Linked DNA regions of Homo sapiens. The protein of the gene in region 2 purifies or fractionates together with the protein of the main gene of each other region. This does not show direct contact. Each region holds a gene or a part of one and is shown on either strand. Other genes may lie near its edges. The genes, in order: CUL5, ASB8, AMBRA1 and NPAT.

The links.
Region 1: the proteins of ASB8 (region 2) and CUL5 purify together in Homo sapiens (affinity purification with mass spectrometry; 5 studies listed by BioGRID and IntAct, with this or other methods). This does not show direct contact.
Region 3: the proteins of ASB8 (region 2) and AMBRA1 purify together in Homo sapiens (affinity purification with mass spectrometry; 4 studies listed by BioGRID and IntAct, with this or other methods). This does not show direct contact.
Region 4: the proteins of ASB8 (region 2) and NPAT purify together in Homo sapiens (affinity purification with mass spectrometry; 2 studies listed by BioGRID and IntAct, with this or other methods). This does not show direct contact.

Annotation. Positions count from the first base shown.
Region 1 is NC_000011.10:108,067,882-108,074,910, reverse strand, and holds part of CUL5 (cullin-5), read right to left. Parts: intron 4,816-7,029; coding exon 4,722-4,815; intron 2,580-4,721; coding exon 2,449-2,579; intron 1,522-2,448; coding exon 1,414-1,521; intron 1,112-1,413; coding exon of another isoform or gene 1,034-1,111; exon of another isoform or gene 845-1,033; intron 1-844. UniProt on the Homo sapiens protein: Core component of multiple cullin-5-RING E3 ubiquitin-protein ligase complexes (ECS complexes, also named CRL5 complexes), which mediate the ubiquitination and subsequent proteasomal degradation of target proteins.
Region 2 is NC_000012.12:48,154,509-48,161,623, forward strand, and holds the start of ASB8 (ankyrin repeat and SOCS box protein 8), read right to left. Parts: upstream 3,008-7,115; 5' UTR 2,951-3,007; intron 2,750-2,950; exon of another isoform or gene 2,614-2,749; intron 1-2,613. UniProt on the Homo sapiens protein: May be a substrate-recognition component of a SCF-like ECS (Elongin-Cullin-SOCS-box protein) E3 ubiquitin-protein ligase complex which mediates the ubiquitination and subsequent proteasomal degradation of target proteins.
Region 3 is NC_000011.10:46,395,885-46,402,023, forward strand, and holds the end of AMBRA1 (activating molecule in BECN1-regulated autophagy protein 1), read right to left. Parts: intron 2,060-6,139; coding exon 1,566-2,059; 3' UTR 530-1,565; downstream 1-529. UniProt on the Homo sapiens protein: Substrate-recognition component of a DCX (DDB1-CUL4-X-box) E3 ubiquitin-protein ligase complex involved in cell cycle control and autophagy.
Region 4 is NC_000011.10:108,170,630-108,177,658, forward strand, and holds part of NPAT (protein NPAT), read right to left. Parts: intron 6,462-7,029; coding exon 6,365-6,461; intron 5,746-6,364; coding exon 5,617-5,745; intron 3,223-5,616; coding exon 1,570-3,222; intron 1-1,569. UniProt on the Homo sapiens protein: Required for progression through the G1 and S phases of the cell cycle and for S phase entry. Activates transcription of the histone H2A, histone H2B, histone H3 and histone H4 genes in conjunction with MIZF.

The DNA.
Region 1 (7,029 bases), on a different chromosome or scaffold from region 2:
CTACTCAATTTAAGACTTCACACCACGCCCACCATGTCTATACTCCCTTAACTCCTTTCCTACTTTACCTACTTATTTGTTTTATTTTTATTTATTTATTTTTTGAGACAGAGTTTCGCTCTTGTTGCCCAGGCTGGAGTGCAATGGCACGATCTCAGCTCACCACAACCTCCACCTCCTGGGTTCAAGCAATTCTCCTGCCTCAGTCTCCTAAGTAGCTGGAATTACACGCATGTACCACCACGTCCAGCTAATTTTTCGTATTTTTAGTAGAGATGGGGTTTCTCCATGTTGATCAGGCTGATCTCGAACTCCCGACCTCAGGTGATCCACCCGCCCTGGCCTCCCAAAGTGCTGGTTACAGGCGTGAGCCACTGCACCTGGCCTATTTACTTGTTTTAAAATAGACAAAAAGAGTCTGGGCACAGTAGCTCAGGCCTGTAATCCCAGCACTTTGGGAGGCCGAGGCGGGCCCATCACCTGAGGTCAGGAGTTCGAGACCAGCCTGGCCAACACAGTGAAACCCCGTCTGTAGTAAAAATACAAAAATTAGCCGGGCATGGTGGTTGGTCCCTGTAATCCCAGCTACTCGAGAGGCTGAGGCAGGAGAATCGCTTGAACCTGGGAGGCAGAAGTTGCAGTGAGCCAAGATCATGCCATTGCACTCAAGCCTGGGCAACAAGAGCGAAACTCAGTCTCAAAAAAAAAAAAAAAAAAAAATTAAAATAGACAAAAAGAGTGAGAAAAAAATCCTACTGGAGAATGGAGAAAGTTGTCTTTTTAGAATCATTCAAACTTGGGAAGTAACGAAAGGTAGTCAAAGAAGAGAAAAAACTAACAGCAATTTCTTGTTATAGGTTTATTACACTAAAAAAGATACAATGCTAAGGACAGTATGGTGTTTTATTATCATTATCCTATACTAGTGAGGATGGAAAAAGATGGTATGCAATACAAATGCTTCCCTGGGAAACAAGGATAAGTATAACATAACTCCCGAAGGAGTCCCATGAAAGGACGGAGGATGGAGGAATCAACTCTGCTGGTGATGAGCTGTGGAGGGAGGCAGGACATCAAGGAAGCTCCAGGGGAAGTATTCTTTGAGCTGGGTCTTAATGGAAGGATGAATAGGAATTCAATAGATCAGTAATATTCAAAAACAGAAAAACATTCTTGGAAAAATGAGAAAAAAGCAACTTTCTAACTAAATTCTAATTCACAAGGCTATCTAATGTTTAACAAATGCTTACAGCCAAGACAAAACGAATATAGTTGTTCTCCACTGATGAAAAATAACAGTTGCTAGGTTTTTAAGTTTATAATTAATAGAAAAATAATGCAAATTGATTATTAGAAGTAAATTATGAGAATAAAACTTTTAAAAGTGTTTTTTATATATATAGGAATATATACCTTATCTCTTGCAGTAAGAAATCGTGGATCATCTTGAAAAGCTTCTTTGACGAGTTTACTAAATCTATTAAATAGTGTAAGTAACTGCTCAACGTATTTCTCAGAGTCCTAGAAACAAAAGGTTTTACATTAAGTTTTTAAAAGAAAAAGAATAACACAAAAAAATGAGAAAATAAACATAATTTTAATAAAACTCATTTAAAACTGGGGATATTTTTTCTTAAAAATAAAACTAAAAGGTGTTCCAATATTACTGTTTTGCCACTTCTTTTTTCTTTCTTCCTTTTTTTTTTTTTGAGACGGAGTCTCGATCTGTCGCCCAGGCTGGAGTGCAGTGGCACCTTCTCGGCTCACTGCAAGCTCCACTTCCTGGGTTCACGCCATTCTCCTGCCTCACCCTCCCAAGTAGCTGGGACTATAGGCGCCCGCCACCCCGCCTGGCTATTTTTTTTGTATTTTTAGTAGAGAGGGGTTTCACCATGTTAGCCAGGATAGTCTCGATCTCCTGACCTTGTGATCTGCCCACCTCGGCCTCCCAAAGTGCTGGGATTACAGGCGTGAGCCACCTTGCCCAGCTCCCTGTTTTACAGAGAAAATAGTAATTTCAATTACTATTTTCAATTTTCAATTCTGTATTTTTAAAAATTTAATGTTTTTATTTGTAATCAACACATAATGGTACATATTATGGGGTACAATGTTATATTTCAATGCATGTATATACTATAATGATCAAATTGGGGTAACTACTATATCCATCACTTCAAACATTTATAATTTCTTTGTGGTAACAACATAAAAAATCTCTTCTATCTTGAAATATACACTACATTGTTACTTGCTATATCCGCCCTAATGGGTAATAGAACACCAAAACTTATTCTTCCTATTGAACTATAACTTTATACCCCACTAACCAACCTCTTCTGCTCCCCCAACCCCCAGCCTCTGGTAACCGCTCACTATTTTCAATAATCCTACATTTAAAAAATAGCCTTGATATATATCTATCATTGCCATTGAAAAAAAACTTACAGTAGTAATAGTTTCAGCAGCTGCTACCATATCTGCCAGGCCAGCACTAATGATATGTTCCTCCAAGTCTTTCAACATTGGCTCTATACCATTAGGAACTTTGTCCATCAATGAAAACATTAAATGTAATTCTGGAAGGAGAGAACACATTCATGTAATCATTTCATTTACTAGAGTAAGAGTTTAGAGAAACATTAGTTAAGTTTGTAATGTTAATAGTATTCTGTGGATACAATGCCATTAGGAGTAGTTGTTCGTTTTTTTGTTGTTGTTTTTTTGTTTTTGAGACAGGGTCCCAGTCTGTCACCCAAGCTGGAGTACAGTGGCTCGATCACGGCTCACTGCAGCCTTGACCTCTTGGGCGCAAGCAATCCTCCCATCTCAGCCTCCTGAGTAGCTGGGACCACAGGCACATGTCACCATGCCTGGCTAATGTTTTTTGTAATTTTGTAGAGACAGGGTCTCCCAATGTTGCCCAAGCTGGTCTCAAACTTCGGGGCTCACACAATCCTCTCGCCTTGGTCTCTCAAAGTGCTGGGATCATAGGTATGAGCCACTGTACTTAGTCTAAAAATTATGTTTAAAAAAAAATCGAATTAAAAGTGATCAGGCTGGGTGTGGTGGTTCACGCTTGTAACTCCAGCACTTTGGGAGGCCAAGGTGGGAGGATCATTTGAGCCCAGGAGTTAAAAAGACCAGTCAGGGCAACATGGCAAAACCCATCGTTACACAAAAACAAACAAACAAAATTAGCTGGGTGTGGTGGTGCATGTCTTTGGTCCCAGATACTTGGGAGGCTGAAGTGTGAGGAATGCCTAAGCCCAGGAGGCTGAGGCTGCAGTGAGCCGTGATTGCACCATTGCACTCAGCCTGGGTGACAGGGCAAGACGGTCTCAAAAAATAAAAATAAAAAAAGTGATCAAATACTGCAAAACCCAACTCCTTTCTTTAAAAGGTCAGTCATTTGGCCAGAAGCAGTGGAGATCAGCCTGGGCAACAAGGTGGGGCTCTGCCTCTACAAAAAATACAAAAATTAGCCAGGCATGGTGGTACACGGCTGTAGTCCCAGCTACTCAGTGGGCTGGGAGGTGGGAGGATCGCTTGAGCCCAGGAGGTCAAGGCTACAGTGAATTGTGATCGTGCCATCGAATTCCAGGTTGGGCAACACAGCGAGACCCAGTCTCAAAAGAAAAGGTGAGTCATTTGGTTTTCAGTGCAAAGGAATATTTATTTACACACAAGATTAGTTTATTTCATAAGGTAGTTGTAATACTACATATACAGCCATATCATCAAAAGGTAAAAAACATGAGTAATAATTACGAAAGCAACTATATTAGAGATTAGAATATAAAACTGTATTCATAAATAATTTTTCAATTTACAAAGCACTTTTTCATGTTATGCCATTTTATTGACCTTCACAAAAACCCTACCTCACGGTACTGATTACCACTAAATAAATCCTTTTGAAAAGAGTGCAACATAGATCAGACATAACTCTAATTAGACTGGCACACAGAATACAAGTATTTTGTTTACGCCAATAAAGCAGCTTGCTTTTTACTACTGAATTACTCCTAAAAAGTGTATGAACTTAAGTGAATTGAAATATGCACTTTAAATGCAACTAGAGATTAAACAGGACCTTGCAGTTAGATATAATAAAACCTGGAAACTCAGTAGAAGTACGTTATTTAAAAAACAAAAGCAAAAAAATGTTAAAAGCAGTTTTACTGGGGTAGTAGGTATATGTACAATTTTTTTTTTTAGTTTGTTATATACTTGCTACCTCTCAAAACACATCTTTTTAAGAAAACATTGAAGTAATAAAAAAATCCTTTAGAAATCTTATAAAGTATTTTGGGGGACAGAGATGACTATTAACAGGGAGTGTTTTATTACATTCTAAAAAGATTCATCACAAGGTTCCACACAAAAGTCAAATACCTGGTTCTAATCTATAACATATGTTTCCAGTTTAAACTGGCCTTTAAAAGCAGTGTCTTGCTTTTGAGAAAAAAGTAGAAATTCACCATACACATACACAGATGTTGATAGCTAAGAGGGAAAATGCTTAAAATTTAAGTTTATATACTCTTAGCAGTGCCTCTGTGTTAAATATTTTATCTATTTCCTTAAGTATAGTTCACTCTAACAGTTCCACATATACCTATGTGGAAAAGAATTAACTAAGAGCAACTTAGTAAGTGATTTGTTTCAAAGATACCCTCTTAGAAGATTATGATAACTTTATGTGATGTTTTACCTACTTTCAGTTTCATTTCTCTTGATCATGCCTTGGCACTCAGCTAAGATAGTCTCTTTAAATGATGTCACCAGGGCATTTACACAGCATTCCATGAGCTGAAATATATCAAAAATTAGTCAAGGCTACTATAAGCTGTATAGCACAAATCTATTCTAACTCACAAAATAAAACAATATTGTTCAACAAAAAAAAAATTATACTGAAAGTAGATTTCACTTACCTTAACTATAGGATTATTGAAGATGGATATGCTATACTAGTTTACCAAAGTGTATTTTCCCCTAAGGAAAAAAACTATAGAACTAGACTCTCTTTAGAAATTTTAACAAAAGTCCTCAAGGAGGGGAGAGAAAAATATACAAAACCAAACTTTGATTAACTCTTCCTGTCTGGAGAGAACCTGTTTTAAAATTAGGTTATAAAATTCTAGAAGTGTGAATACATTCATTCAACAAACCATTATTGGATGCCTACTACGTGCAGGCACTAAGGAAGTATTTAAGAGACAAGAATAAGATATAATTCCTGCTCTCGAAGAGATCACTGTCTAATTGAGAGTGAGGAGGGCAGTAAACCTACACTGCTAACTAAATATAACTCAGTTAAGTGGCATCACACACATACACAAACACACACAAAATAAAAAAAAACTTAGAAACTACTTTTTTCTAGGGTAGTTAAAATGGCCTCATCCACAAGTTGGTATCTAAATGGGATCCTGTAAAGTAAGTACAAGCCCTAAAATAGGTTACGTATTCTAGGAATACCAGGAAGCTTAAAATGGTAGAGAAGAAACAGACAGTGGAAGAGAAGGCTAGAAAGATAGGCTGCAACCAGATTATGAATGAAAATCTATGATTTGGGGTTTTATTTCATAGGTAGGGAAGGAAGAACAAAGGAAGGTTTTTTTGTTTGTTTAAGAGACAGAGTCTTGCTCTGCTGCCCAAGCTGGAGTACAGTGGCATTACTACATAGCTACTATCATACCTCACTACAGCCTTGAACTCCTAGGCTCAAGTGATCCTCCTGCCTCAGCCTCTTGAGTAGCTAGGACTACAGGGATGTACTATCAAGTCTGGTTAATTTTTTAAACTTTTCTGTAGAGATGATGTCTTGCTATGTTCCCCAGGCTGGTCACAAACTCCTGGTCTCACATGATCCCCCTGTCAGTCTCCCAAAGTGTGGGATTACAGGTGTGAACCATCAGGCCTGGCCCCAAGGAAGTTTTAAACAGAGGATAAATGTAATGAGATTCTCCTCTCCTCAAGTCATTATTAAAGATCAGTATAATGGTAGTAAGGCAGGTGGTAAGGAGTGGGTGGTTGGGATATGGTAACGAGGCTGTTGAACTATTTCAGGTAAGATAGCAAGGGTCTAGTGCTCTAGGAGGCCATCAGGAAAATCTAAATGAGGCAGAAGATATCATGTCATCTCTGCTCCCTCGTGTCATGTAATTATTTACTTCTCTTTTGGGGATCAGATGAAATTAATAGGTTGTGAGGACTAAAGTTAAGTACAATAAGGCTGATATATTTCTTCTGAAAAACAAATCATCTATCTGTAAATTAAGGGAGGCAATTATGTGTCCCTTAAAAATTTTTTATTAAAAATTCCTTTGGAATTGACATAATGTTGGTAACTACTAAAGCTGAATTTAGGTAATGGGGATTCATTATACTGTTCTTCCTACATTGTAAAAATGCTTAAAATTTTCCGAATAAAGAATTTTCTGTGGTCCCTGCGAGTTGGGGGGCTGAGGTGGGAGGGTCAGTTAAGCTCAGGAGGTCAAGGCTGCAGTAAGCCTTGATCATGTCACTGCAGTGTAGTCTGGGCGACAGAGCAAGACTGTCACAAAACAAAACAAAACAAAACAAAAAAAAAGGTTTTTTCAGGCTCCTCTACAAGAATGATGCTGATGACTTTTAAATGCATATATCCATGTATATTTCTGTCCTAAGAAAATAATACACATGGCTGGGCGTGGTGGCTCATAGCCTATAATCCCAGCACTTTGGGAGGCTAAGGCGGGCGGATCACCTGAGGTCAGGAGTTCAAGACCAGCCTGACCAACACAGAGAAACCCCATCTCTACTAAAAATTAGCCGGGCATGGTGGGTGCCTGTAATCCCAGCTACTCGGGAGGCTGAGGCAGGAGAATTGCTTAAACCTGGGAGGCAGAGATTGCAGTGAGCCGAGATCGTGCCATTGCACTCCAGCCTGGGCAACAAGAGCAAAACTCCGTCTCAAAAAAGGAAAAAAAAAAGAAAAATAAAGAAAAGACTACACATATAAAATGGTTAAGAAACTCT
Region 2 (7,115 bases):
TTGAGGTAGTATTCTAAAATAGGTAAGGAAAGCAAAAGTATAACTACCCTGGAGTCATTTATATAAAACTAGGAAAAAATTAAAATTCAGAATAATAAAATGTACTTTCAGTTTTAGGAAAATTTGCAGATTTTAAAATGAGTTAAAGGTGGGGCGTGGTGGCTCACACCTGTAATCCCAGCACTTTGGAAGGCTGAGGTGGGTGGATCACCTGAGGTCAGGAGTTCGAGACCAGCCTTACCAACATGGTGAAAGCCCATCTGTACTAAAAATACAAAAAAAATTAGCTGGGCATGGTGGCGCACGCCTGTAATTCCAGCTACTCGGGAGGCTGAGGCAGGAAAATAGCTTGAACCCAGGAGGCAGAGGTTGCAGTGAGCTGAGGCTGCACTACTGTACTCCAATCTTGGCAACAGAGTGAGACTCCATCTCAAAAAAATAAATAAAATGAGTGAAAATTTTTAATAATTGGCTATTCATGGCAACTGAGAAATAGATTTGGTGAAATATATGTTGAAACCACAATAGGACAGAGTTCTAGGATGGAAGAAGAAAATAATGCAATATACTTCAATTCAACTTAAAAGGCTTGGCTGTATAAGAGACAAGAGTTAGGGACCATTTAAAATTACAGCCAATAAGGTAGAACACTTCTATGAAACAGTACATATCAAAAACAATAGGGAAAATATAATACACAGTATCAGCTCTCTAGGTGCAACTGCTTAGAAATCTGTGTTCTTATTATAAGCTCTTTGGGAATAACGATACTGATTTTTTCAATAGTACCTGAACACATGGTAGGTTCTTAACATCTGTTGAACCAATGTAAAGTTTATTACTTTAGATCCTAAGAAATTCAAGACTTGAAATAAATAAGCACATTACCCATATGAAATTGTTTTGGTCATTTAATAATATATAATGTTTTGGCGGGGCGCGATGGCTCACGCCTGTAATCCCAGCACTTTGGGAGGCCGAGATGGGCGGATCACTTGAGGTCAGCAGTTCGAGACTAGCCTGGCCAACATGGTGAAACCCCGTCTCTACTGAAAATACAAAAAAATTAGCCAGGCATGGTGGCATGCACCACCCCTGGTAGTCCCAGCCACTTGGGAGGCTGAGGCAGGAGAATCGCTTGAACCTGGGAGGTGGCGGTTGCAGTGAGCTGAGATCGCGCCACTGCACTCCAGCCTAGATGACAGAGTGAGACTCCATCTCAAAAAAAAAAAAAATATATATATATATATGTATATATAGTCTTTTGCTTTATTTTTTTTTTTTTGAGGCGGAGTCTCACTCTGTCATCTAGGCTGGAGTGCAGTGGTGCGATCTCAGCTCACTGCAACCTCAGCCTCCCAGGCTCAAGCAATTCACGTTCCTCAGCCTCCTGAGTAGCTGGGATTTACAGGTGTGCACCATCACGCCCAGCTAATTTTTGTATGTTTAGTAGAGACAGGGTTTCACCATGTTGGCCAAACTGGTCTCAAACTCCTGACCTCAGGTCATCCACCTGCTTTGGCCTCCCAGAGTGCTGGGATTACAGACATGAGCCACCATGCCCGGCCTATTTTTGCTTTTTGTGATTGTGTATCCCTTTATATATTATATACTATAAATTCTGATAGTTTCTATTTTGTGAATCAGTAGCCATTTATAGTAGATGTAAATTCCATTAAAAGAATGCAAGTAAAAATATTCATATGTATCGATAATTCAAATTAGGTATTTTTCTCCCGTTATCATGCACGGATAAGCTGACACACTTGTTTATATGTCTCTATGACATTTTCTAGATAGTTTAGATTTGGCATGTGTTTTAATCTCTCCAGTAGCCACTAAACTGCTCTGAGACAAGTATCTGTATCTTATAATTTTTTTGTTTCAAGGAAAAAAAAAGACAAGTGCATTTGAGTTGGTAATTCCAAGAATGGCAGCAGAAGACAGAGCATCTAAAGCAGGAGGCTTGGACCAAAGTGGTTCTGTTGCCTGTAATCCCAGCACTTTGGGAGGCCAAGGCAGGAGGAACTCTTGAACCTGGAAGTTCAAGACCAGCCTGAGCAACATGGCGAGACGACCCCAAAACCCAATCGTCTCTACAAAAAAATTCAAAAATTAAAATAAATAAATAAAGTCGTTTTGTTAACCATTTCTGGGCCATGATAATCGGATGAAACTAAATCCTGAACTAATTTCCCGGGCGCTCTTGGGCTCTGGGCTAAGAACTCCTGAGAGTATGGTCAGTGGTCTGCTGCTGCCTGGAAGCTCCCGGTAAAGGAATGAAACTTCAGGGCAGACAGCATTCACTTCAGGAATGGTCAAGGAAAGCTAAATTCGATCTCACTAGACAGCAGCCCGTGTAAGGTTTGATCCCCTTGGAAGGCCCTTTCCTCTGCTAGAGCTGAAAGCCCTGTCTCCCTCGTTTTCTTTTGCTACGGGATCCAGAGAAAACACCAAAGGGCACTTACTGAGAAGCTGAAAAAAAAAAAAAAAAAAAGCAAACTGGAAAAGAGAAGACACAACAGCTCTGATGCGAGGGAGGCCTCGGCCCCGCCCCCTCCCGCCCCGGGAGAACCTTGGCCGAGCCTGCAGCGCCCGTAATCCCCACCGCACCTGCTGCGGGAGGGCCCGCGGCAGCTGTCTCGCTGAGGCTAGGGGGCGGGGGGCAAGGGCACGAAACGCAAGGACGTGCGGTGTCACTTTCTGCACGGGCTCTAAACAGATCGCAGCAATCCCGGTAGGTCCGGTACTGAAAGAGAATCACGCAATTTGCGCTGGGGGGCCTCAGACGCGGACCAACCCCCTCTTCGATCTGCCTTCTAAGGCCCGGAAATAAGTCTCAGCCTCGAGAACTAGAGCACTTCGACCAGGGAGTAGAGGAAGCGTTATTGGGCGTGGTACCCTGGGTTAGGAAACCTGGCTGTAGACCCACTCCAAGGACCGCACTCACCGAATTGCTGGGCTGAGGTGGGGGTTGAAAGCCGCTGTCAAGGCGTGACCCGGAAGCAGAAGCTGTCGGGGGCAGGCCCTCTGTTTACCGGACTAGAAGACCAACTAAGATGGGCGCCTGCGCACTGATGAGTGTTCGTCAGCGGGGCGCGCCTGCGCAGACTTGTGCAGCAGCTTTCGCCCTCCAGAGGCCTAGTTAGGGGGTTACTTTCTCCTTTTACTCAGAGGCTTTGCGCGCAGGCTCAGTGCAGCGTTCTCGGCCACAGCCGCAGGGTTCGGGTCTTGGTCCTGCAGCGGGGATAAAAAAGCTCAGGAACCCTGAGTGTTGGGCCGATTCTATATGGTTGCACCTGCGTGGACCAGGCCAGCAGGGGTCCATCCACAATGGTTCAGTTGCTTAGGAGACTAAACTCTTAGTAGGAAGTGTCTTTGACAAAAATACTTACAGCATTATTCATAATGGTGGAACGAATCTATGCTCCTTAGAACCCTCCTGTACATGTCCACCCTCCTTCAAGTAAACCATATCAAAGACAAACTCAACCACCCAAGAGGTGTAGTATTCTAAATGTAGAGGAATAAATGACCTTTATAACTCTTATTAGGGTTAATGAAACTTCCCGCACAAAAACATGATGACACCTCTGAGTGACAGACTTTCTGTGCAAAGCATAAACATTTTGAAGTCAGCAGCACATGGTGGTGGTGCATGGAAGGAGTGAAGCAGCAGCCCATTTAGGCAGACTGCAAGAGTTGTGGTCTGCCCGGTAGCCTGTTTAACCAGAGTGCCCCACACCTACTCCCCAGAGCTTGTTCTAAGCAACCAAATCTAACCAATTAGAGATTTAAAGCAGGCCCAGACAGATCATGTACATCAGTAAGAGGATGGTAAACTGAAAGTTCATGACCTGGTCTGAGGAGTGGGCCTCCTTTGAGCTCCAGACTCAAAGGAATTTTGCCAGGTAGGAATATGCCCTCCACTTCCTGCCACTGCACCATGGTGAGATCGTCCATTTTTCAAAAGAAGCTGAAATACAGATTTTTTTTAAAAAGTGAATTTTTCCAAGTTGCAAATGTTGGCAATGTTTTTATTATTATTATTATTATTATTATTATTATCATCATCATTATTTATTTTTGAGATGTAGTTTCGCTCTTCTCACCCAGGCTGGAGTGCAATGGCGTGATCTCGGCTGGCTGCAACCTCAGCCTTCCGGGTTCAAGTGATTCTCCTGCCTCAGCCTCCTGAGTAACTGAGACTACAGTCACCTGCCACCACACCTGGCTAATTTTTTTTTTGTATTTTTATTAGAGATGGGGTTTCACCATGTTGGCCAGGCTGGTCTCAAACTCCTGACCTCAGGTGATCCACCCTCCTCGGCCTCCCAAAGTGCTGGGATTACAGGCATGAGTCACCACACTGGACCACATCTCTCAAATTTCTTGGTTGGGAAATGCTGAAGTATATAAATTCTGGGAAACCATCAGCATCTTACAAATGTAAGAATGAGCGGAGTCTCCCAGGGAGTGATAAAATAGGCTCTCAATACAGGTTATTTTACTTATTTATTGAAAAACTGAGTACACTTTTATTTTACTTGGCCTGCAACTCAGTATATGCAGAAAACTACTCTATGTCACACTCATGATCAATATCTTCTTATTTCCATTTGGCATGTCATTGAAAACCTAGCCCATCACTTAGCTAAAAATCACATAAGAGACCCCTAGAGAAATCAAACTAACTTTTTTTCCCCCCAAACAATAGATCTCATCTTTATTAGTCAAATCAGTACCTGCTGATAGGGCAGTGGAGCAAGCCTGACAGTGATATTCATTAACAAAGAAGACAAAACTTATGCTTTCAAGTACAAAGATAAACTTTGAATGGCAGAGAGCCTAATCTGACTATCATCAGCCACCAAGAACACAGAAGAGCAAATAACTCAAGAAGAGAGAAGCCAAAGTGCTATAAAAATTATTCTTTTCTGTGAAATTCAGTTCCACAGCCTGTATGAGCAAGGGTCCAAAACACTGGAGAGCCAATAAAGCTGCTGGGAGGGCCCATTCATAATGGGAGATGCACTGGCTGTGCCTCCCTTGCTGTGTCCTTCCATGAGCGTCCTCCACTCTTCACTGACTTCATTTAGACTTGGTCCTCTGGTCTCACCACAGCTACCTGGGAGACTTTGAGTTGTAATCTTACAGTTTCAAGAGTCTATTTTGACTGAACCCAGGAGTAACATGCCAATCCAAAATAGAAACATTCTCATGGTACAATGGTGCAAAGGTCATTCTGTAGGTTGCATATATATAACATATATATATACACACAATATATATATTACATATGTACTATATATTACAGATATACTATATATATTACATATATATACACAATATATATATTTCTATGGAAGACAAAGCTTCCTTTTTTTTTTTTTTTTGAGATGAAGTCTCACTCTGTCACCCAGGCTGGAGTGCAGTGGCACGATCTCAGCTCACTGCAACCTCCACCCACCTCCCGGGTTCAAGCAATTCTCCTGCCTTGGCCTCCTGAGTAGCTGGGGTTACAGGCGGGCACCATCACACCTGGCTAATTTTTGTATTTTTAGTAGAGACAGGGTATCACCATGATGGCCAGGCTGGTGTCGAACTCCTGACCTCAGGTGTTCCACCCACTTCGGTCTCCAAAAGTGTTGGGATTACAGGCGTGAGCCACCGCGCCTGGCTGCTTCCTTCCTCTTTAACAAGAGAATATTGCACCCAGCATCACTGCTTTGGCTAGCTCTTTTTTCCTGTGTGCCCTCATGTGTGCAGCAATTGAACTGGCTAACAATTTCTGCATTCTTCCTGGTCTGGCCAAAATAATCTGGAAACTCACCATCTGGCCCAATCAAAGACATTGTTATTGTATGATTCACTAACATGGTCTTCATCTTCATCCTTGGGGCTAGAGCTGTAATATACTCTGTATGCTCTGGCCACGTGATTGATCTCTTCTTTCGTGCCAATCAGGCCAACCAGTTTGGGAGAAAATTCTTTCACATAATTTGCAATGGCCTTTTTTATGTCCCTCTCTGGGTCAATGGTGATGAAAAGTTAAATTTGGCAGAGTTGGAACACTATCTCACCCACAACTTGAATTATTTTTTTCTAGTTCTTCTGGACAGATATCAGTAATGACTGAAACCAGAATAAATCAACAGCCACTGACCCAGGTAGTCTTTGTCAGTTTCAGGCTCTCCAAATGTGTTGTGAGGGAAAATGGTCCCCCAGTAAAGGCTTGTTGATGCTTCACTGCTGTTCCTTCTCTAGCTTCTCTGTCTTTTCTATTTTGAATACTTCACTCCAGGCAGTAAACCTCCTCAGATAGCAAATGTGAATGCTAAAGACTTCCAAGAAATAGGCCTGGGCTTCAAGGGGCATGTGCAGTCTCTGCAGTCCTTCTGCTCAGGCCCTGACCACCTCAAGGGTGGTTGGTGGTATCACTGCCTGAGGGGCCAGCTTCCCAGGCAGCTATCAGCAAACCCCCAGTCCTGCCACACTTCCTCTTGCATGCAGAATTGCCTTGGCAACACTCTCACAGTCTACTTGGCTGGGCCCCAAAGCTCATGTCAGCCAGGCAAGAGACACCAAAGTTGGCCCATACTGATTACTTTGAAGTGCCTCAGAGAATTCAGTGCGCAACAAAAGTTGGTTTCGGATACATTCAATCATCCTTTCATCAAACATTTACTGAGCACCTACTTTATTCCAGGCTTTGTGCTCAACTCTCCAGGGAAGACAGAAATGAAGACAGACAGTCTCTTATTATCAAGGGTTGGGAGACAGATATGAACATCCTCAACTGCAATTAATGATGATTATTTCAACAACATTGTTATGTCCAAAGTCAGTGTTGACAAACAGTTCTACCTCATGGTGAGATCAAGAGAGTGAAGGAAGGAAGGGTCTGTGAAGAGACTTCTTGGGGAGAAATTTGTATGTGCTGAGTCCCTACTCTCCTCCTACCCAGAGGGAAAGGAAGTACTGATGTTGCCTAAAGAGGGGCTTCTGTGGGACCAGAGAACTTGAAGATTGTTCCCCATAGTTGTAAAACAAAAACTGCACCAGTGCTTACTTATAAATTAAAGAGGGCTGTAGCCACAAAGTAGAGGTGGCTA
Region 3 (6,139 bases), on a different chromosome or scaffold from region 2:
CAAAGCCCACGAATAGAGCAGGCCTTTCGGCCACTGTAGGGAAGACACAGTCAAGGGAGACCTGAGCAGCTAGCAACTGGCACCTTGCCTGCAGATAGGACCAAGCCCCTCCACCTGCCTAGCAGGCTGGACACCTGCTGTGCGTGCTTTCCCAGGACTGGAGGGGATCCAGGTTTCTGGCCAGTTACATCACTTCAGGCCTGTAGTCCTGGGTGGGAAGCTATTAGGATGAATAGCCTTCTGTCGTTCCTTCCTACATACTCACCCTGGCACTGGAAGGTGGCCCCAGTCTGTAGCAGGCCCTGGGGAAGCAGGAAGTGGTGGCGTACAGAGAAGTGGTATGAAGCAGAGGTGGCAGCCCTCACCTGACCAGCTCTGGCGAAGGGGTCAGAGGGGTCCACTGCACCCCACTAGGAGAGCACCAGAAACAGTGCCGGGAGAACCTGGGCCTGGCCCAGTTCAATGCCCCTCACTTCCCAATCCCCACCCCTCCCCCATCCTCCTTGGAAATAAGAGAGAGGAGCCTGGCGAGGGGCATGTCATCATTTTAATGATGTGATCTTTGGTGTTTCCCTCATTAGCTGTAGACTATCCCCTCTCCTCCCACCACAATGTTTCTATGATGAGTTACAAACAGAAAGGAAATCACATTTTCATACTAAAAACAAAATGATCAGAGCCTTGATTTCTCCACTAGAAACTACACGTACAGTTAAGAGTCCACATGCAACACCTTAAATCACAGACTGAGACCTCACATTCTGACCTGGAGTCTCCTCCCCTTCCCCAGCCTTGGGCTAGCTTTGGCCTAGGCTCAGGTAATACTGACACCCACAGGCGCTGCTCTGAGGGCCTTGCGGGGAGAAGACTGGTGGACAAGCCCTGGGGGCTGGCCAGCCTACACCCCCCACTCCTGAGTGAGGACCTGCCCACTGTCCCTTGACCCCATCCTGTATCAGGCAAGCAGGCGCCCCCTTACCCCACAGTAGTCCCCCATTAGTAAATGCCGAAGTCCCTGTCCTCAAGAATCTGGGAGCCTGGCCCGATCCCTGTTGGTTTCAGTGGGGTAAGACGACGAAGAGAGGCTGAAGCTCTGGAAGGCTCAGAGTTGGAGGTGGTGTCTGGGTTCCTGGTGGCTCTGCCCACCCAACAGGTGGACAGGGCAAAGCTGCCTCGCGGGCCTCTGTCCAGGATGATTGGCCCAGATCTGGAAGACTGTTCACTCTCTGGAGGCTCTCTGTCCAGGGCTGAGTCCCCTGAGCCCATGTTACTAGGAGAAAGTGGGGTGCCTGGCAGAGATACCCACTTGTTCCTCTATTCACATTAAGCCCACAGTGTGGCTCTCCCGGGCTCCAGATCCTGGAAGGTTCTAGTTCCCCGAGGCAGGCCTTGCCCATTTGACTGTCTTGTGCCCACTGACTGATCTTCCTCTCCACCCTGACCCTCTTCCTCCTCCTGTTCCCTGATGCAGCCAGCAGCTCTTCCACATGTCCAGTTCCCAGTCAGCTGTGAGGTCCGGTTTCTGCTTGGCGGTTCGAGGGGAGGCACCAGTGCAACGTTTGTCTCTACCTGTTCCGTGGTTCTCCCCTAGGGCCTGCAGCGTCCCCCCTGCTGCTGCCACCATCCAGAAGGTGGTTGTTATTGGTCAACTCGCAGTGGAGGGTTGGTCCCTCAGCGCTGGGAAGGGAAACAGGAATGGGGACAGGGGAGGAAGAGGGCAGGGTTGGCTGGGTTGGCTCCCGCCCAGGGGTACCAGGCTGGTCCCAGGAAGCTGTCCGGGGGCTTAGGCCTCGCTCTGCCAGTTGCCCGGCCTCTGGGAGCAGTCCCCGAGAGGTGGAGGGCTGGGGTGAGGAGGTGTGGGCGGCACCAGGTTCAGTGCCCGTCTGAGAGCTGCGGTGAATGCGGTGGCTGACGATGATGTTGTTGCCGAAGCCGCCCATGGAGGCCATGGTGGTGCTCTGCTCCCGCTGCACCACGGCTGTCATGCCGCCCTCCGCCATCAGCCTCTGGATCCTGCTGAGCGCATCTTCTCCACTGGCACCATACTCTGAACCCTCACCTGGCAGATACAAAGCAGAAGAGAGAGCGAATTGGCTGCTGGCCTGGGCCTCTGAGGCAGGTGGGCAGCCACCGGTAGCAGCTGGGGGATTCTTGACTAAACGCAGGATAGAGAAAGACTCGCTCCATCACTGTGAAAACCAATCCGAGTCTTGAAAGCTAGACAAAACCCCCAAAATGTTCACAATCCATACTTCTGTTTTACTGGTGGGGAAACTGAGGCCTAGGATGGCCAGTTAAGAGGCAGCACTGGCCCAGAAGGCAGCAGGTTGGCCTCAATGAGTTCTCTCAGCACCAGTGGCAGCTTAGCATGCGAGAAGGCAGGTTCAGACAGCTGGTTTTGTCTGCCTGCTCCCTGTTGTGGAAACTCAGCAGACCTAGGGCTGAGCTGGGGTATGCCACCCTTTCTCTGCAAAGAGAGTAGGTACCCTATGGGTGTGGCCCAAAGGGAAACAGTCTGCTCTGCTTCATTACAATGCTGTCTTCCTTCAGCGTAGTTTTGTGTTACCTCCTCAAAGCCCCTGAGGAAGCTGAGAGTTATTTTTATATTGATTGATTGATTGATGGAGTCTCACTCTTTCACCCAGGCTGGAGTGCAGTGGTGCGATCTCAGCTCACTGCAAGCTCTACCTCCTGGGTTCACACCATTCTCCTGCCTCGGCCTCCTGAGTAACTACAGGTGCCCGCCACCACACCCAGCTAATTTTATATTTTTAGTAGAGACAGGGTTTCACCATGTTAACCAGGATGTTCTTGATCTCCTGATCTCGTGATCTGCCCACCTCAGCCTCCCAAAGTGTTGGGATTACAGGTGTGAGCCACTGCGCCTGGCCTATTTTATTTATTTTTGAGACAGAGTCTTGCTCTGTCACCCAAGCTGGAGTGCAGTGGTGTGATCTTGGCTCACTGCAACCTCCGCCTCCCGGGTTCAAGCAATTATCCTGCCTCAGCCTCCCAAGTAGCTGGGATTACAGGCATGCACCATCATACCTGGCTCATTTTTGTATTTTTAGTAGAGATGGTGTTTCCCCATGTTGGCCAGGCTGGTTTCGAGCTCCTGACCTCAGGTGATCCACCCTCCTCGGCCTCCCAAAGTGCTAGGATTACAGGCGTGAGCCACCACGCCTGGCCATATTTATTTATTTTTTTGAAATGGAGTTTTGTTCTAGTCGCCCAGGCTGGAGTGCAATGATGCGATCTCAGCTCACTGCAACCTCCACTTCCTGGGTTCAAGCCATTCTTCCGCCTCAGCCTCCGAGTAGCTGGGATTACAGGTGCCCGCCACCACACCCAGCTAATTTTTGTATTTTTAGTAGAGACGGGGTTTCACCATGTTAGCCAGGCCAGTCTCGAACTCCTGACCTCAGGTAATCTGCCTGCCTCAGCCTCCCAAAAGGCTGGGATTATAGGCATGAGCCACCGTGCCCAGCCTTTGTTTTTTGAGATGGAGTTTTGCTCTTGTCACTCAGGCTGAAGTGCAGTGGCACAATCTTGGCTCACTGCAACCTCCACCTCCCAGGTTCAAGCGATTCTCCTGCCTCAGCCTCCTGAGTAGCTGGGATTACAGGCTCCCACCACACCTGGCTAATTTTTTGTATTTTTAGTAGAGATGGGGTTCCACCATGTTGGCCAGGCTGCTCTCGACCTCCTGACTTCAGGCGATCCGCCCACCTAGGCCTCCCAAAGTGTTGGGATTACAGGCGTGAGCCACCGTGCCTGGTCAGAAGCTGAGAGTTTTAACTGTTCCTTGGAAGGGCTGTTTCCTTCTCTTCTTTCCCTTTACCCCCCAGTCTTCACAAGCTATTCCCCAGTTATTGTTCTCCTGGGGCTCAATGCCTGATGCCATATTTCCCGGAAAAGAGTCAACTGACCAGCACAGGACCCAGGTCTAGGGAGGGAGAGAAGGATCTGTCCGCCACTCCCTCTGCAGAAATGCCTGAGCATTCCCTTGTGTGGGAACAGAAAAGACTTCGGCTCAAATCTCAGCTGTCACTTGCTTGCTGGGTGACCTTGAAAAAAATCCCTAACATCTACCTTGCACGGTGCTGGAGAGAGAAAAGGAGCTAACGCACAGCCCAGGCACTTGGTCAACGGTGCCTGTTGTGATTAACTTGGGGTCTGCAGCAGTGGAGCTCTATTGCTGTGGGACCTCCCTTCCAGCTTTCTGCTCAGCTCTTGGTAGGGTGAGAACCAGGCCAAGACCGTGGGCAACTATGATCAAGGCTCTGAGGCTGCGAGGGATGGCTCCACTGAACTGCTGATTTGTCTCCATCAGCTACTGTTTGGAATTTTGCAGTTTTGGGGGTTTTGATGGTGAGTTTTCTTTCCTTTTGGGGTACTTGCCAGCAGCTATTTTTATGAGACTTTCTTTGCTCCCCTAACCCCATCCATCCCCTTCTCTCTGCCTGCCTCATTAGAGTTGGATTTCCAGGCCAGCCAGTTTCACAGCTTGGTGGCATCTAAGGCCCCAAGAGATCTCTCACCCTTCTTGTTGGTACTTGGCAGCCTCATGCTTCTAGTTCTTTCTATAGTTTTTTTTTTTTTTTTTTTTTTTTTTTTTTTTTTTTGAGACCAGGTCTCGCTATGTCACCTAAACTGGAGTGCAATGGTACAAACATGGCTCACTGTAGCTTAGCCTCTTGGGTGCAAGTGATCCACCCACCTCAGCCTCCTGAGTAGTAGGGAGTACAGGCAAGCACCACTCCTGGCTAATTTTTTGTACTTTTTGCAGAGACGGTTTCGCCGTGTTGCCCAGGCTGGTCTTGAACTCCTGGGCTCAAGCAATCCTCCTGCCTTGGCCTCCCAAAATGCTGGGATTACATGGGTGAGTCACTGCGCCCAGCCCCAGTCTTAGACGATCTTCCTCAGCATTATGTCCTCTCTTGCTTTTCTGGACAACCCCTGATAAAGCACTGCCCTCCATCCCTCAAGGTGGCTGCCCTTCCCCACTTCCTCCTGGGACACCCGGCTCCAGCTCCCAGGGCAGAAGGAGAGAAAACCTGAAGGGCTCTCAGAGTACTGGGTCAACCCCATCTTCAGGTTTTAAAGCCTTCTAACAGTGGGGCAGAAGGTAAGAAGAAAAAAGTCAACCTACGGCCTTGGTGCCCACAGAGATTCTACCCTGGGAGCCAAGGGCTGCCTGGGGAGGTCCCCTGGGGCCCTCCCTGTGCTCACTGTAGCCCCAATGCTTTCTCAGAACTCTGTGCACTGAAGCCCTCGCAGCATGGTCTGGGGCGTGCTGTGGCTGGCCTGAGGCCTGCTGGCATTGGAGTGCACTGTGCCAGGCGCTGTGCCTAGTGAATTCTCAGCTCTTTTCGAGACAGAGTCTCGCTCTGTCGCCCAGACTGGAGTGCAGTGACATGATCTCAGCTCACTGCAACCTCCACTTCCCGGGTTCATGCAATTCTCCTGCCTCAGCCTCCCGAGTAGCTGGGACTACAGGCATGTGCCACCATACCCAGCTAATTTTTGTATTTTTAGTAGAGACAGTGTTTCATCATGCTGGCCAGGCTGGTATCAGACTCCTGACCTTGTGATCCACCCACTTGGACCTCCCAAAGTTCTGGGAGGCATGAGCCACCGCACCCAGCTCAGCTCTTCTCAAGTAGATTACCAGGGGCAGAACAGGCTGCCTTGGGGCCCTATGGGTGCTGCTGCAGCCAAGCCCCCAGAGAGCCCCGGATGGGCTTTCCCAGGCTCTGCGGGAGGCCCTGCTGCTGGCACTCAAGTCTGAGCCCACTGCTTGCTTGCCTATGGCTCCAGGCCTGGCCACCCCTCTCTATGGCTATGACTGTGTCCTAACTGGGCTTCTTGCTTCCAGTCTCCTCCCCTTCCGTCTAGTCTCCACACTGTTCCTATTACCATCCTAATTCAGCTCTGCTGACTTGAGCTCTGGTTAAGTCTGCACCCTGTTCAAAACCCAGCAGCTGCAAAAGCCCTCACAGTAGTCAAAACTCCTTAGCTTGACATTTGAGGGCTCTCTGGCCAGACCCTTATCATGCTGCAGACCTTCCTGCCCTGTCCCCCACATTCCTGCAGGTACCCGGCAGCCCTGCTCCCTGCCTGCACAGATGGGCATACA
Region 4 (7,029 bases), on a different chromosome or scaffold from region 2:
TGTCCATAAACAAACTTTTGCCTAATACACTACTGTCAGGTTGATCCCCTCATTTTCATGCAACCTACTACGGTCTCTCTGTCTATGCTGGTGCTGCTTCTCTTTATAACTTACAGATTTTATAAGTTATAAAAACTTCCTTGCTTTAACTCCAAATCCTACCTTCATTCTTTAAGCTTTAGCTCAAGCCCCACATTCTCTATTAATTCTGACCTCTCCTTTATGTAATTTGTAACAGCACGTAAAACAGACCCATTAGGTTTAATACTAATTGTTGATATTTAATGAAATTTTATTGTATGTCTATAATGTAACAAAAAGGGAAAAGAGGGAAGCTTGGGAACCAACACATAAGGAAATGTAAATAAATGTGCCATGAGCACTATCTCTGAGGAACATACAATAAAAAATTATCAATATGATAGGCATATCAATCACTAACTACATATAACACAGCACGCAATAAATGCCACAAGAGCCCCTATGAAAAAAGGATTTTTTTTTTTTTTTTTTTTTTTGGAGACAGAGTCTTACTCTGTCACCCAGGCTGAAGTGCAGTGGTGCGATCTTGGCTCACTGCAACCTCTGCCTCCCAGCTTTAGATTCTTCTGTCTCAGCCTCCCAAGCAGCTGGGATTACAGGTGCCCACCACCATGCCAATTTTTGTATTTTTAGTAGATACGGGGTTTCACCATGTTGGCCAGGCTGGTCTTGAACTCCTGACCTCGGGTGATCTGCCCGCCTCGGCCTCCCAAAGTGCTGGGATTACAGTCATGAGCCACTGAGCCCAGCCATAAACAAAGGATTTTAAAGACAGAGATCAATTAGAAAGGATTTTATAAAGGAAGAAATTCAAGTTTTTTTTTTTTTTTGAGACAGAGTCTCGCTCTTGTTGCCCAGGCTGAAGTGCAATGGCATGATCTTGGCTCACTGAAACCTCTGTCTCCTGGGTTCACGAGATTCTCCTGCCTCAGCCTCCCAAGTAGCTGTAATTACAGGCACCTGCCACCATGCCTGGCTCATTTTTTTGTATTTTTAGTAGAAATGAGGTTTCACCATGTTCTCGAGGCTGGTCTCAAACTCCTGACCTCAGGTGATCGATCGGCCCACCTCGGCCTCCCAAAGTGCTGGGATTACAGGCGTGAGCCACCATAACCGGCTGAAATTCAAGTTTTTCTTGAAAATTTCTCCAAAAAGATGATGAATTCCCTGAAGACCATGACTATAAGAGCTATTTTTAAAAACTCCCCCACAACATTGGGTTTTATACAACTATGTGATGAATTAGTCTGTCTTTTCTGTTTATTGTAACTTACTAGCACATAGATTGAGAAGTATTTGTGAAAAGAAAAAAGAAAAACCACTAAAGCCCATAGCTTACTAGCAGATTAAGAAAAATAAAAAAGGTTTGAATTAGCTAGCATAAAGAAGCAGCGTAATCACAAATTTCAGAATCTTTTCTCATACCATCTACTCATTAGTTATTACTTCGCAGTCAATAACATCACATACAAAAGAAATTAGATCCCAACCCAGAGAAACAAATTTCAATTATGTTATTAAAGTTACCTTGTGAAAAGTTTGGTGACACAGCTTGGTTGACAGCAAATACACTGTTTGACCTTGGTGGTGTCTGTAACTGAGGTGGTAGAGGTTGAGCAGTCATAGGTGCAGAATTTCCAGGCAACACCACTACATTAGACTGACTTACAGATGTTCCTAACGCTGTTGGATCAGTCACACAGGTAGCTATCAGAATGTTATTTGAATTGCCAAAAGCTGTGCTTGTGGCTGGCATCAACTGTATATATCCTCCATCCTTGGAAACACATGGTGTAACATTAGCTGAAAAAGCAATGCCATCTTCATTCTGAGTATTGTTTACTGCAGAGTCTTCAGATTTGAATGTTAAAAGACTCTGTTCCATTGAGGCTGAATCCCCTACTTCGGCATATACAACAGCACCTACAGTTTCTTCTGAAGATAGGCATTTAACTAGTTCTGCATTTTTAGTAGGTGATTTAGTAGGAGAAGACAAGATTATAGTTGGCAGGTTTTCTCCATTAATACTAGAAACAGCACTGGTAAGTTCAGTATCTGAGGAAACAAATGGATCATCACTAATGATAACTTTGAGAGAGACGATATTTGATGCATCTATCTCTGCTGAGTTGTTGCTAGAAGGTTTATCATCAGTATTTTGGGACTCAGGGTGAGAATCTCCCACTGAAGAACACACAGATTCTGGAGGAAGAGAGTGACTGTTTTCTACAGGAGTGCCTTCTGGAGGCGTCAGTGCAACTTTCTCACAGTTAGCATTTCCACCTAAAGAGAGAAAAATAGTATTCTCTTCTTTTACAGAAGATGAAGGCTCCTGTGAATTCTCAGACTTGGATGCCTGAGCTTCATTTTCTGTATGATTTAACTCAACAGATGCTGAATCATTAGATGGTTGTTTAGTAGAAGACAGCGAATCTCCAAGATGAATTTCTACTTGTCCAGATACATTTAAATGTGAACTTTCAACAGACACAGGTAGTATTTCACTTTGAAGACAAGAATTATCTTGGCAATTTGATAGCTGTGACATAACTGGTTCTAACACATTAATTTCTATTTTACTCTTGTGAACTTCACTAGAATCTGATGACTTGGAACCATGAAAATTAATTTTAAGTTTTACTGTATCATTAGAATTTTCACAAAATTGACTTTTTTTAGATGGCTTTCCAGTTAATGAAGTATCTTGGGATAAAAGTTGAGAACTCTTCCCAGAGAGAATTAAGTTTTCATTGTTAGCTTCACAACCAAGTGAAACAAATGAAGTTATTGGTATATCAGGCTGATCAGGCTGTAACTGAGATTCACTCGGTACATTTGAAGACAAAGAGTTCTTTTCAATCCCTATAGCCATTTCAGTTTCAGTGGACATCTGATTGGTGTATAATTCAGCACAATGTGGATTACATTCAGCATTAGAATTCCCTCTTTGGTTAAAGTCATTCAAATTAGGCACGGACTCAAAGGTAATGTCAATGTCACACTTCTGTTCAGTGGGTACAGCTGTTTTAAAGGCCTTTTTCTGTATGCTGGTACTTATTTGGGAAAAATTTTCCTGGTCTTCTTGTCTAAGCACATCATGGTTGTTGCTATTCTTCAAAGCATTTAATGGGTCATCATTCTGATAGGATGTACAAAAAGCGGGCTGACCAGACTGACCATCTGCAAAGTATCAGGCAGGTAGACAGATATGGTAAATATGTTCAGCTTCTGAGGTAGTCATTTTTGCCATAAAACTTATTTTGCCAAGAAAATAACTCATCTTTGCATACCAGTAAGTGGAAGTCTGATACGCTGTGTTTCCCATTTACTGAGTATCAAAAAATTTACAGGTACTTTCTAGTTACTGATGACTTTTTACACAAGTGTCAATTTGTTTTCCAAGCTTGGAAGACAGATGATACAAAGAAGGAAAAAGTAAAGAGGTTTAATATTTCAATAGGTAAAAAACATACTGGCTCCAAAAATGAAGTTTATTTTGAAACACTAACTTTTCAACTTCTAACATTTCTTCTGACTTTAATTTATCTACTGTCTCGGCCTCCCAAAGTGCTGGGATCACAGGCATGAGCCACCACACCCAACTTATCTGACATATTCTTAAAGGTGAGATGGGGCCAAGTACATTTTGCATGATTGACACTTGATCTCATTGTGTACTGTTTAACATTAAACACATATTTACTGAAGACCAACCATACTTGGTTACTGGGATACAAAGATGAATGATCCAATCTCTAATCTTGGAGAGGTTAGTCAAGGAACCAACTATAGAACAGAAAGTCATAAGAAAGCATGGTAAAAACTGTAACAGCATAGGAACAAAAGGTACCATGAGAAAAAATTATAAAGGAGGCACTGTATGAGAAGATCTTAAAAAAAAAAAAAAAAAAAGAGTATGATATGAGTAAGGAAAGAGTATTTCCTTTTTTTTTTTTTTTTGAGACAGAGTCTTGCTCTGTCGCCCAGGCTGGAGTGCAGCGGTGCGATTCTCAGCTCACTGCAGCCTCTGCCTCCCGGGTTCATGTGATTCTCCTGCCTCAGCCTCTTGAGTATCTGGGATCACAGGTGCGCGCCAGCCACCACACCTGGCTAGCTTTTGTATTTTTAGTAGAGGCGCGGTTTCACCGTGTTGGCTAGGCTGGTCCTGAACTCCTGACCTCAAGTAATCTGCCCTCCCTGGCCTCCCAAATTGCTGGGATTACAGGCATAAGCCACTGTGCCTGGCCTGGAAAAAGTGTTTCAGAAAACAACAATACAGCATTCACAATTTAGGACAGAAAACATTAACTTGAATCAGTATGAAAAATATTTTTTAAAAACCAGAACATTTATGTCAACTAGCATATACAGCAGTCTCCCATTATCTGTAGTTTTGCTTTCTGTGGTTTCAGTTACCTACAGTCAACCAGCCTAAAAATAGGTGAGTACAGTACAATAAGATATTTTGAGGAAGACTACATTCACATAACTTTTATTACAGTATATTGTTATAACTGTCCCATTTTATTATTAGCTATTGTTAATTTCTTACTGTGCCTAACTTTAAATTAAACTTTACCATAGGTATGCCTGAAAAGGAAAAAACAGTAAATACTATATAGGCTTTGGTACCACCCAATTTCAGGCACCCACTGGGGGGCTTGGAATATATCCCCCATAGATAAGGGGGGACTACTCTAATTCTGTTAAATGTGACACTTGCTGCTGAGTACAGAGCACATCTGAATCCTTATTGTGGGGAAAACAGTAGAAATTGTATAGAGGCCACATAAATTCAGGATAAGTAGTTCCTCAGTGAAGTAGGATGACTTTCTCAGAAAACGGAATTTCAAGTTTCACTTTGTACAGGGAAGAACTTAAGTGAAACACAATCTTCTAGACATAATATATACTGCAAAAAACACAACCCACTATAATTCAGCCTAAGAAGAAATGGAGAATTGGACTTGATTGTTGGCAGAGGAATTAAAGGAGGCACACAGTCTGAGATTCTCCAAGGACAGGATGTGAATGAACACTGGAAGCCATCAGATTTTTTACTGGTGGGAGCAGGTGATAACATTTAAAAACAGGTGCACAAAAAACATGTGCCTTAATAAAAATAAATGTTACAGACTTTTGAGCAACTGAACAACATTAATACTAAATTGTACATGTCAAGAATTGAATTATAAAGGAATGAGGTTGAGTGTGGTGGCTCACACCTGTAATGCTACCTCTGCTTCCCAAAGTGCTGGGAGCATCGTTTGAGGCTGCATGCAGTGAGCTATGATTGTGCCACTGCACTCCAGCCTGGATGACAAGAGGGAGACCTTGTCTCAAAAAACAAACACACACCAACAAAAAAAGCTTATAGTAAAAGAATGAATACTGTAAATTTTCTTTTAATCAAACTACCAAAGATTTATAATTGTTTTTAACAGAGAGAAAAATACAAAAATGACCTATAACAATCTGAACAACTTCTACTTCCAAATTAATATTTTCTGCCTTTGAATTTTGAGACTAATATTAAGATTTGGATTGATGATATTAACAAAATTAAATTCTTACCAGATTCTTCTGTTTCAAAAGAACCTTTAACTGCTAGATTAGTTTCATCTGCTAAGACTATACTGGGATTGGATTCCATAGGTTGACTGGAAATACTTTGTGATATATTTTTATTATTCTTTGTTTTGCCTGTTAAAAAGGGAATATGGAAATAATTAAATGACCAAAACAAAAAATAAACATCAATGAATACAGCTTGTTGGTGATTACGCAAATGTTAAACTTCGATTTAGGGTTTTATGGATGTTTAAAAAATGTTGCTTTTAATATCATTTACAAGTACAAAGATTTTCCCACTAGACAGGTGTTTCTTAAACTTTAGCCCAGTAATTTGCATTTTCTAACGAGTTCTCAGATAATGCTGAGATTGTTGGTTTGGGGGACTATACTTTGAGAACTACTGCACTAAATCATAAGATTGAGGACAATGGCCAATTTTTTGTATTCCCTTTGTACGATTCAATTGTGTTTAACACATTTGTATAGTGGTAGACATCAACACATTCCCTGATGACTGGCAAAAATGCCACAAAAATAAAAAACAAAACTACTCTCCACTTTAACAGCTAAAGTTTCTCAGCTAAAAACAAAACAACAAACACTCCTTTAACATATCCATATAATGTTTGATGAAATGAAAACAAGAACTTTTTTAGATACTCTGGGGAATGTTGATTCACTCTGGTTAAGTTACCAAAGAAATTGTAGAAGCCTTTTTTTTCTGTCTTGAAATAAATAGTCTCCTTACCATAGTCAAAGAGATCAAAGAGTGCCTGAAATGCTGGGTCTGATTCTGTCTGTTCCAATATGTCCTGTATAGCTTCTTCAGACATGTGAATTTCACTCTGCAAGAAAGGAGTGGCGTGAAGGCATGATTCTAACTGAATTTATATATATTTACATATTATATATATATAAGACAGGGTCTCACTCTTTTGCTCAGGCTGGAGTGTAGTGGTACAGTGGTAGAGTCACTGTAGCTCACTATAACCTGAAATTCCTGGGCTCAACTGATGCTCCTGCCTCAGCCTCTTGAGTAGCTGGGACTACAAGTGCACCACTATGCCCAGCTTATTTTATTATTATTATTATTTTTGATAGAGATGGGGTTGCTACCTTGCCCAGGGTAGTCCAGAACTCTTGGGCTCAAGTGATCTTCTTGCCTCAGCCTCCCAGAGCACTGGGATTATAGATGTGGGCCACTGTACTCAGCGTGAATAATATGATTTAATACCAGCAAAATAATTAGCAGACACTCGACTATTTCTGACTTTTTATGTAGTAGCATTCCCCCACTCCAAGAAAATTTCCAATGACATGCTCATTTAAAACAAATTAAAACAAAACTAGATAGGTGTTTCCTAATCCTACTTCTTAGAGGTAAGAACTTTGGTGAATATATTCCTAAACATT